3 linked regions of the Homo sapiens genome follow. The protein of the gene in region 1 purifies or fractionates together with the protein of each later gene. This does not show direct contact. Each region holds a gene or a part of one and is shown in the gene's direction. Other genes may lie near its edges. The genes, in order: TMEM184C, ZDHHC9 and TMEM248.

Region 1 (3,654 bases):
TTGCTCTGTCACCCAGGCTAGAATACAGTGGCGTGATCTCAGCTCATTGCAACCTCCACCTCCCATATTCAAGCAATTCTCATGCCTCAGCCTCCCAAGTAGCTGGGATTACAGGCGTGCCCGGCTAAATTTTGTTATTTTTTTTGTAGAGACAGAGTTTTGCCATGTTGGCCAGGCTGCTCTCAAGTGATCCACCTGCCTCGGCCTCCCACAGTGCTGGGATTACAGGCGTGAGGATGGCTTGAGCCCAGGAGTTTGAGACTAGCCTGGGCAACACAGTGAAACCACATCTCTACAGAAAATTTAAAAATAGCTGGGTGTGGGGGCACACACCTACAGTCCCAGCTACTCAGGAGGATCACTTGAGCCCAGGAGGTCAAGAGTAGCCTGGGCAACATAGTGAGACTCCCATGTCTATAGAAAATAAATTAGCCAGGTGTGGTGGTATGCAGATATAGTTCCAGCTACTCAGGAGGCTGAGGTGGGAGGATCACTTGAGCCCAGGAGGTCAAGAGTAGCCTGGGCAACATAGTGAGACCCCATGTCTACAGAAAATAAATTAGCCAGGTGTGGTGGTATGCAGATACAGTTCCAGCTACTCAGGAGGCTGAGGTGGGAGGATTACTTGAGCCCAGGAGGTCAAGAGTAGCCTGGGCAACATAGTGAGACCCCATGTCTACAGAAAATAAATTAGCCAGGTGTGGTGGTATGCAGATATAGTTCCAGCTACTCAGGAGGCTGAGGTGGGAGGATCACTTGAGCACAGAAGGTCAAGGCTGCAGTAAGCCATGTTCACACCACTGCACTCCACCCTGGGCAACAGAATAAGATCCTATATCTCAAAAAATAAAAAAGGTATTTAGATAATTTGTTTCCTGCCATCCACATTCTTCTGCCACTGCTATTAAGGATGACTACATTGAAAGAATTAACTGTAAATATGGTATCATTCATCAAAGTGATTTTAATTTGGAGGCTTTGGGGAAAATCTGATGCTATTTAAATGAGTAGTTGAAATTCTAAGTTCTTTTTCTTTTGCAGAGTATTGCTGTTTAGGTGCAAACTAGGTGTATTACAGTACACAGTTGTCAGACCTTTCACCACCATCGTTGCTTTGTAAGTACTCGGATTTTATATGAACTTTTTTTTTCATCCTTGTGATCTTATGTGGGAACAACTAAGTAGAAAACATAGTGTTAATGTGCTTATTTATAATGCAGGTCTAGTCTGTTGTAAAAAAAAACACTGTATAGAAACTCACTCTATTAAAATAAATAACATGACCATTTATAGGCAAAGAGTCACCACAGGGGTCTCCTAAATATTCACATCCTCTCCAGAGCTAGCTGGCCGTAAAGCACTTTGAAAAAAAAATACCTTCTTTTTCAGATACATAGCTTGACAGAAACCCTATTGCATGAAGTTAAAGTATGCTACTTTAGGTTAATTACAGTTCTATTTTCTACATAGTTAATTTAGAATATATTAGAAGTACTCTAAGAAAGAAGTCATATTTTCTTTTAATATATTCTATCAAGGCTTAGAATTGAGGTAAAATGGGGTATCATTAAGCTACCTGGCAAAACTATTCCCTAAAAATTCAAGAACATCAAATACTTTAATGCCAATAGATTACATGTTTTATCTCCTAGTTGTTACTAACATTTTGCATGCTCACAGAGGAAAAGTGGAAAGAAAGACTTGTGAAAGAATTCTTTATTCTGCCTTTGAGCTAGCAATTATTTAGCCATTTAATTATGAAGGCATGCTTTATTTCCCTGCAGCTTAGAAATTGGGTAAGATTATAACAATACTGATGGTCATACTTACTTGAGGGGATCTGGGTCTTCATAAAATTTACCTCCAAGACAATTGAGGGGAAAAAATTAACAACTACAGTTATATACACCTGCATTATATTATGTTTAACAATCAAGCTTTCCCAAAATTAGACAGCATAGTTGTTTTTTTTTAAATTTAGTACTCTTTCTAGTTAAGTGTTATGTGTCTTATTTGGGATTTCCTTCAAGTTGAAGGAATATAGTAATATTTCTAGAAAAAAATGGGTTTTTCATTTTTGAACCACCTCTAGATCCAAAGTCAAGTGATTGTCAATGGATCTCTCAAATAAACTGACTTCTAAATTCTCTGTGTCCAAAGTCAAGTGATTGTCAGTGAGATCTCAAATAAACTGACTTCTAAATTTAAGTATTGCTATTGCTGTATTTTGAAGTACGATTTTGATTTAATCAGAGATATCTCATTTTTACTATTTTTAGAATCTGTGAGCTGCTTGGTATATATGACGAAGGGAACTTTAGCTTTTCAAATGCTTGGACTTATTTGGTTATAATAAACAACATGTCACAGTTGGTAAGTAAAATGTTCACTTTTCTTAAACTGTACTAAATTCGTATCTATAACTAAATTTCTTTAGACAAAGTTTCTTCTTAGGATAAGGCTTGCTTCTTTTTAATCTTCCTATAAATTAAATCTGAAATTTAATTTATAGAAAGACTTGAAAAAAATTTAATATATATCTTAATACATATATAAAGATATAATAACATCTTTGTTTATTATTTGGCAACTTATACCCTCACATGTTGACCATGTTTGTTCATTTATTTCTGTTGCTCATTGCATAGCTGTATGAGTATGTCATAAATAAAAGCACAGTGCTACATAAAAAAAAAAATACACACACACGCCCACATATACTGAACATATTCAGAAGAGAAAATATCAAATTGGTATTTGATGGTACAGGGTTTGAATAAAAATGTGAGAATAAAATTCTCTGTTATCATATATTTGAAGTTAAAGGAAAATTGAGAATGCCAAGTTTAAAAAAATGGATGATGTTCTAGAAACTGTATGTTCCAAAGACCTATGATGTAATGTCCTATTTGATCTTACAAGCTTAAAAAAATGTGCATTTTATTTAAATTCTTTGACTAATGCTGTCAGCAAAATAATTTAGATGCAGTGGTATGCATGGTTGGTATTAGAGCTTTATAATAAAAATTAAATGTCCATGTAGCTAAAGTTTTCCCACATGTTCATCCTCTTTGGAACCAGTAATTCTGTTTCTGGGAATGTATTCTAAAGAAGTGTTCAAAAGTATGTTTGCCTAAAGTATCTTTGTATATAAAGCCCATTACTTGTAAATAACAAAAGGCTGAAAGCAATCCAAAACCCAATGTTAGGGACTAGTTGAATGCACTGTGGTCTTTCCATTGGCCAAAATATTAGGCAGTTACTAAAAATAAGCCTGATGAAACATATAGAAGTTATGTATTTTAAGTGGAAAAAACATTAGGCAATAAAATTTTATAATTAGTTCATGACAGTTATTTAAAAACTGGCTTATGTGTAAAAAGGATGATTGGACACCATGAATCACTTTATTCTTTCTTTCTTTACTGGTTTCATATTCTAAAATACTTTGAATTTGCATTTTATATGATTTTAATAGGGAATAGTGAACTTTCAGGAAAATGTTTATTGTTATTCAGCACTACACTAGGTTATTACAGATTTCTAAAAAGTTAGTAAGTCTTGTTCATTTTAAAAAATAAATCTAGCTGAACTAATACACCGCTCTCAGGAAAAATTGTTTGATTCTTTACATTCAGATTTCATAGTCACAAT
Region 2 (3,654 bases), on another chromosome or scaffold:
CTATTTCCTTTTTGTTTGTTTTTTGTTTTTGTTTTATGTGCAGTCGACTCTTGAACAATGCAGTTTTGTACTGCATGGGCCCACTTAATAATGAGGGTTTTTTTTTTCCAATAAATACAGTATCAGTGTGTTCCTCATCTGCAACCAAATGCGGATCCAAAATACAGTCGTCCCTAAGTATCCTTGGGGGATTGGTTTCAGGGATTGCCCTTGAATACCAAACCCCATGCATTCTCAAGTCCTGCAGTGGCCCTGTGGAACCCATGGATATGAAGTCAGCCCTCTGTATCCGTCTCCAGGAGTTTCATATTTTGTGAATACCGTATTTTTGATCTAGGTTTAGTTGTGGATGCAGAACCTGTTGATACGGAGGGCCAACTGTATTTATTGAAACAAATCCATGTACAAGTGGACGCACGCAGTTCTAACCTGAGTTGTTCAAGGTTCAAATGTACAGTATTCACAAGATGCAAAACCTGTGTACATGAGGGGCAACTTTTCTTATCCGTGGGTTCTGCAGGGCTGCTGAATGACTTGAGTATGGGTGGATTTTGGTGTCTGCCTGTAATGCTTACCACAATCAAATGAACATATTCATCACCACACATAGTTACCATTGTGTGTGCATGTGTGTGTGTGGTGAGGACACTTAAGATTACTCTCTTAGCAAATTTCAAGTAACTTTTGACTATTATTTTCTTGACGAAGTATTTGTATTTTCCTATTGATTTCTAAGAACTTTTCATATAGTCAGGTACAACTTTACATAGATTGCCATTGTTTTTTTTTCTTTAGTCTTCTTTATGGTAATTTTAACATACACAAAATATTTTTTAAATTTTTAATTTTTTGTTGGTATATAGTAGGTATATATATTTATGGTGTACATGAGAAGTTTTGATACAGGCATGCAATGTGTAATAATCACATCATTGATCACCAAGGAAATGCAAATCAAAACCACAAAGTACTTTTTTAAAGTTTATGGAGTCAAATCTATTTTTCCTTGTCATCTGTTTTCTTCCAGTACTTTTATGCTTAGAAAGTCCTTCTGCATATAGAGGACAAATAAACATTTATTCTTTATAGTTATTTTATGGATTCACTTTGTTTTTACATTTAGTTCTTTAATTCATCTGGAATTTACTATGACAAGTAGTATGAAGACAAAAAAATCGATCCTTATTTTGCACCAAATAGCCAATTGTCACGTAATTGTTTATGGAATAATACTTCCTTTTACCTCTGATTTTGTAATGCTGAGTTTATTAGACAACAAAATCTTATATATTCTAAGATCTGTTTCTGGGCTCTTTCCATTCCATTGAACTATGCCATACCATTTTAAATATTGTAGTTTTACATTTTTCCTTGGCTATTTTGACCTGTTTATTCTTCTTGAACTTAGTAGGCCCACCGATTAAGATTTTATTTGGAAAAGCAGTGTCTCTGCTTTTAATGAGCTGAGTGAGGCAAATCACTTAACCTCTCCATGCCTTTGTTTCTTCATCTGTAAAGTGGGGAAAAGAGTATCTCCTTTTGCCCAAGTTCCAGGGAAATTGTGAGGATCAAATGAGATGGTTATGAAAACATTTTGAAAAAGTAAAAAAAAAAAAAAACCCTATATTTTTTACAACTGAAATAGACAATGATCCTGGAGGTCTTTGAATTAGGTATTATAGGGATGGTGGGGTTGATTTTTGTTCTGGAGGCTTTTGGCTTTGGACTCTCTCTTTCTCCCACAGAGCGCTTCGACCATCACTGCCCCTGGGTGGGGAATTGTGTTGGAAAGAGGAACTACCGCTACTTCTACCTCTTCATCCTTTCTCTCTCCCTCCTCACAATCTATGTCTTCGCCTTCAACATCGTCTATGTGGCCCTCAGTGAGTATACAGGGCAGTGTCCGTTGTTGGAGTGGGGCTGGGTGGGGGAAGAGTTAAGGGCAGCTTAGAGGGTTGTTGGGTTTCCTGGTGGTACCATTGTGAAAGGTACTTTAGGACAGGTTAGAAATGAGCACAGTTATCTGCTCTTGAGCAGGGTTGCAAACCTCAGTGCACATCAATGAGTATTAATCAGTGTGTTGGCCTTCTCTTTGGCCAACTGCTGGGCACTGGGGCCATAATTACTGGTCTGTATCCAGAGTACTGGGGCATTTCTGAGGTAATCCCAAAGGCTGGGGATGTATTTTGTCTCGGAGCATCCTCTCTTCTTCTGCCTTGTAAAACTTGCCTTGTGCTAAGGGGTAGAAAAGGGTAAGGGTTTTGCCTGAGAAATGTCTTTTTGTAGCTCATGGTCTAGTTTGGGAGATAGAAAGCACACCCACATATGTACATGTGCACAAACATACACACCCACACACACGCCAATCTAAGAGCAGATGTGATGTGGAGTTAAGGGAGTGGTCTTAAGACAGCTTTCTGGAAAGAGAAGAGTTCTGAGCTGGATTTTGAACAAGGGAGGGACACGTATTGGCAAGGAGAGAGGATTTTTCTTGGGTATTTCTGATTTCTTTTATCTGTTAATATCCCCCTAACATGTCCATAGTTGGGGGCTAGGGAAAAGGGAAGGGAGCCTGCTGCTCTTCTGCCTGCCTGTCTAGTCCAGGGCCTGGTCCTGCACTGGAAATGTGAACTCTTTAGTCATGAGACTACCAGCTAGGAGATGAGGCTCTTCACCCTTGCCCGAGTGAGAGCTTAGCTCTTGCCAGTGTGTAACACGGGAGAGGGAGGGAAGGAAGTGAGTAGGCACTAGGATAGTGTGTAGTTTTGACTGAAGTCACTAATTTTTCTCTCTACTCTTCCATCCAATTTCACAGAATCTTTGAAAATTGGCTTCTTGGAGACATTGAAAGAAACTCCTGGAACATATCCTCCGCTGGCAGTATGTCCCTGTGAAGCCTTCTTAAGCTACTTTCCAGCATGCTTTTTCCCCACAGTTCTCCCACTATCTAGTTTTTCAGATATCAGAGAGTGCCAAGGTCTAAAATAATTTAAAAAAATATAGTCTTAGTGGTAGCAACCAGAATGGAAGATGACCGGGACTAAAAGGGAGGTCTTTCCTTCACCCCCTGCTCAGGACAGTGGCTGCATTTCTGCAAAGGGGGTTCAGATGAGATTTCTATAAATCACATCCTCTTTTTTTTCCCCCACCAGTTCTTCATTTATGAATTTTCTTTTTTTGAGACAGAGTCTTGTACTGTTGCCCCAGCTCGCCTCCTGGGTTCAAATGATTCTCCTGCCTCAGCCTCCCGAGTAGCTTGGACTACAGATGCCCGCCACCACGCCCAGCTAATTTTTTGTATTTTTAATAGAGACGGGGGTTTCACCATGTTGGCCAGGCTGTTCTCGAACTCCTGACCTTGTGATCCGCCCACCTTGGCCTCCCAAAGTGCCGGGATTACATGAATTTTGTTTTTTGACAGAATTTCCATTGGCAGTGATGGCCAACATTGTTTAGCTTTGGCCCCTCCCATGCATCCCCTTCCAAGAGCCAATGATGGGTAAATAGGCACACCCTTAAATACCCTAGATACGCTAGAAATTCTTTCATAAGGGATCTATCCAGTAAGTTCAGAATTCATCTATTGTTATATATGGAAACATGGCTTTTTGTGATATACGTTCCAGGAGGTAAAGATGGTCTGACTGGTGCTCT
Region 3 (3,654 bases), on another chromosome or scaffold:
ACACACACACAATATTTAGAAGATTCAAACTGAAAGAGAATATGTATTCAGGATCCTGCCACTTTGAGGTAATGGCAGTTAACATTTAGTGTTTCTTCCTTCTAGTCTTTTGAATGAAGTTATGATCCGACATTTCTCAAATTCAGTAATGAGTGCCCATCCCACCCAGCTCACCCCCCAACACCTCAAAAGGAAACAAAAGAATCATAGCTTTCCTGTTGGCAAGTCAGTCCTTGAAGCTTCTGATTCATTTCTTTCAGGTGGAGCTGATCAGAATAATGTTCAGCATCAACCCCCTGGAGAACCTGAAGGTGTACATCAGCAGTCGGCCTCCCCTGGTGGTCTTCATGATCAGCGTAAGCGCCATGGCCATAGCTTTCCTGACCCTGGGCTACTTCTTCAAAATCAAGGAGATTAAATCCCCAGAAATGGCAGAGGTATAGTATGCTCTGACTTCTCCCGGGCTGGCTGGTCCTTGTGCAGTGGGGCAACACCCTGTGGCTTGCCATATAGCTTTCTTGGGTTTTGGCCTTTCTCTCCTAGTGAGAAAAATCAGTATTTATTCAGAATTTTCTGTTTTCCATCTCCCCAGGACTCACTTTGTTAGGAAATACCTAGATGGGTATTGTTCGATTTAAATATGCTACCAGTTTCAGTTAGACTATTTTAGCAGTGAAACATGCACTTTGGAGAGTACATTTGTAAAATGATCTGTGTCAAAAAGCTGGAGACCTCACCTCTGTAATATTCCATCTCAAATGGGTTCATTGCTGTTTTAGAAAACTGAACATTTGGTATTTTAAAACCACATATCATCATGGAGTTTTATCAGCTATACTAATGGTTTTTTTCATGAGATAAGAAGGAATCCTAAAGAAATTCAAAAACAGGACCTAATTTCCAAATATATTTGTTTTTTGTTTTTTGAGACGGAGTCTCGCTCCGTCACCTAGTCTGGAGTGCAGTGGCGTACTCTCAGCTCACTGCAACTTCCACCTCCCGGGCTCAAGCGATTCTCCTGCCTCAGCCTCCTGAGTAGCTGGGATTACAGGTGCCTGCCACCACGTCTGGCTAATTTTTGTCTTTTTAGTAGAGACGGGGTTTCGCCACGTTGGCCAGGCTGGTCTCGAACTCCTGACCTCAGGTGATCCACCCATCTCGGCCTCCCCAAGTGCTGGGATTACCGGTGTGAGCCACCGCATCCAGCCTAATTCCTGTCTTTTAGTAGATTCCTTGGGTGCCTTCTCTTATTCTATTTCCTTCTTCTTGGGTTTGTTGGTGGGTGGAGGTGGGGGTGGGAGTGGGGCTGGGAGTGCGTGGTTGCCGCATTGAGTGTGCCTTGCAATGGAGAGGAGAGTTGTGTTCCATGTAATTGAGATCGTAGCTTTCTCTCATGCTCTAGGGCATTCTAGATCTTAAGTGATCTTGGCAAAAGGAACCGCCTACACATGTGAGCTCTTTCTAGCACAGTTCAAGTAACGAGTTTTAGCTATTTCTACCATGTAACCCTTTCAAAGAGTTTATTACTAAGAGACATACTGGCTGGCTTAATTCTCTCTCTTTTCTGACCCTGCCTCAATCTTTAAAGGTTGTGAAAACAGGCTGCCCCCACATCAGGGCTGAAAATGAATATTCTACTCAAAACTAAAGCTGCACAGCCTCCTGCCATTTCTTTCCCGCAGAGCTTGAGTCCATGTTGAGCACTTGGCCAAGGCCAGTGGTTGCACTGAAGCCTGGATAATTAGCCCTTAATAATCCAAATTAGGCCTGGCATTGGCTTTAGCCAGCTGTTCAACGTGGACTCCAGCTCTGTAGGAACGCATTGTTGAGATGCTGCGGAACTTTGGTTATGATTAGTTTCGTGATTTTTGTTTTCAAATGAGGATCCTAGGTTGTAGGAAAGGCAGTGGTGTATGGGAAACATTTGGGGCTGTGAATCAGAACTTAATGCTGATTTTACCTTGAACTAGAATTGGAGAGTCCCTAATTTGCCCTGGGCCTCAGTTTCTTCATGTCTAGGATTATGAAGGACTGAGACTAGAATGTTCATTTTCAACCCTAATGTACTAGAATGGTCAGTTGAGTTTGTAGGTGTTAGGGAAAATGTAATTTGATAGATCCAGTTGCAGTCTTACTAAATGTCACATACAGTTAAACTGATGCTGTAAGGGTAGACTTACTGGGCTGGGTAGGGGTTGCTCAGATGACTTTTTTTTTTTTTTGAGGTGGAGTGTCACTCTGACACCCAGGCTGAGGCTGGACTTCAGTGGCGCGATCTTGGCTCACTTCAGCCTCTGCCCCCCTTCAAACGATTTTCGTGCCTCAGCCTTCCAAGTAGCTGGGATTACAGGCATGCGCCACCATGTCCAGCTAATTTTTGTATTTTTAGTAGAGACAAGGTTTCACCATGTTATCCATGCTGGTCTCGAACTCCTGGCCTCAAGTGATCCACCCTGCTTGGCCTCCCAAAGTGCTGGGATTACAGGCGTGAACTACCGTACCTGGCCTCAGATGGCTTTTTTTTTTTTTTTTTTTGAGACAGAGTCTCACTGTGTCGCCCAGGGTGGAGTGCAGTGGCACGATCTCCTCTCACTGCAACCTCCACCTCCCAGGTTCAAGCGATTCTCCTGCCTCAGCCTCCCAAGTAGGTGGGATTACAGGCACACACCACCACACCCGGCTAATTATTGTATTTTTAGTAGAGACGTGGTTTCACCATGTTGCTCAGGCTGGTCTCGAACTCCTGACCTCAAATGATCCACCCACCTTGGCCTCCCAAAGTGCTGGGATTACAGGTGCGAGCCACCGTACCTGGCCCCTTCCTTTTTGAAATCGTTGCTGCTCTAAGGTGTCATCAAAAGTCCATAAGAAGGGGGGCAGTGTCCCAAATGAGTATTAGTATTCACTGCTGTTTTGTGTTCTAGAGAAAGAGAGCAAGGTGTATGGAATTGACCTTTTGGGACATTATTTTAAGGTGACTTTATTTAAAGAAAAGAATTGTAGTTGCAAAATGAGTTTGGATTAATGCTTTTCTTCAAGCGTTCTTTTCAAGTTTGGTTCTGAGGCTAGATCATTTTCTCTAAGTGTAATATGCTGGATTTTTTAAAAAGATTTTCTTGAATAAATTGATTTGATTTCACAGTTTATTGAGTATCTTGTGCCAGTGAAGAGTTCATATTTTAGGTTGTGAATATAAAAGTGATTAGGAAAGCCACATCATGCTGCCTGTGAAGAGGGTGGTGGCCGAGTTGTCATGATCTTAAATGATCAGCTCTGAATTGTAGTTTGCTGATGTGCTGCGGTGCCACACTGGGGTCTTACCTGTATTCCCGCAGTGGGAGACAGGCGCTGCTTAACACCCATTTCTCTTTCTTTCACTTTCCCAAAGGATTGGAATACTTTTCTGCTACGGTTCAATGATTTGGACTTGTGTGTATCAGAGAATGAAACCCTCAAGCATCTCACAAACGACACCACAACTCCGGAAAGTACAATGACCAGCGGGCAGGCCCGAGCTTCCACCCAGTCCCCCCAGGCCCTGGAGGACTCGGGCCCGGTGAATATCTCAGTCTCAATCACCCTAACCCTGGACCCACTGAAACCCTTCGGAGGGTATTCCCGCAACGTCACCCATCTGTACTCAACCATCTTAGG

The links.
Region 2: the proteins of TMEM184C (region 1) and ZDHHC9 fractionate together in Homo sapiens (co-fractionation; one large-scale study listed by BioGRID). This does not show direct contact.
Region 3: the proteins of TMEM184C (region 1) and TMEM248 fractionate together in Homo sapiens (co-fractionation; one large-scale study listed by BioGRID). This does not show direct contact.

What each region holds. Positions count from the first base shown.
Region 1 is NC_000004.12:147,627,320-147,630,973, forward strand, and holds part of TMEM184C (transmembrane protein 184C), read left to right. Parts: intron 1-1,041; coding exon 1,042-1,116; intron 1,117-2,279; coding exon 2,280-2,373; intron 2,374-3,654. UniProt on the Homo sapiens protein: Possible tumor suppressor which may play a role in cell growth.
Region 2 is NC_000023.11:129,812,887-129,816,540, reverse strand, and holds part of ZDHHC9 (palmitoyltransferase ZDHHC9), read left to right. Parts: intron 1-1,745; coding exon 1,746-1,883; intron 1,884-2,815; coding exon 2,816-2,864; coding exon of another isoform or gene 2,865-2,880; intron 2,881-3,626; coding exon of another isoform or gene 3,627-3,644; exon of another isoform or gene 3,645-3,654. UniProt on the Homo sapiens protein: Palmitoyltransferase that catalyzes the addition of palmitate onto various protein substrates, such as ADRB2, GSDMD, HRAS, NRAS and CGAS. The ZDHHC9-GOLGA7 complex is a palmitoyltransferase specific for HRAS and NRAS.
Region 3 is NC_000007.14:66,941,588-66,945,241, forward strand, and holds part of TMEM248 (transmembrane protein 248), read left to right. Parts: intron 1-260; coding exon of another isoform or gene 261-278; coding exon 279-437; intron 438-3,388; coding exon 3,389-3,654.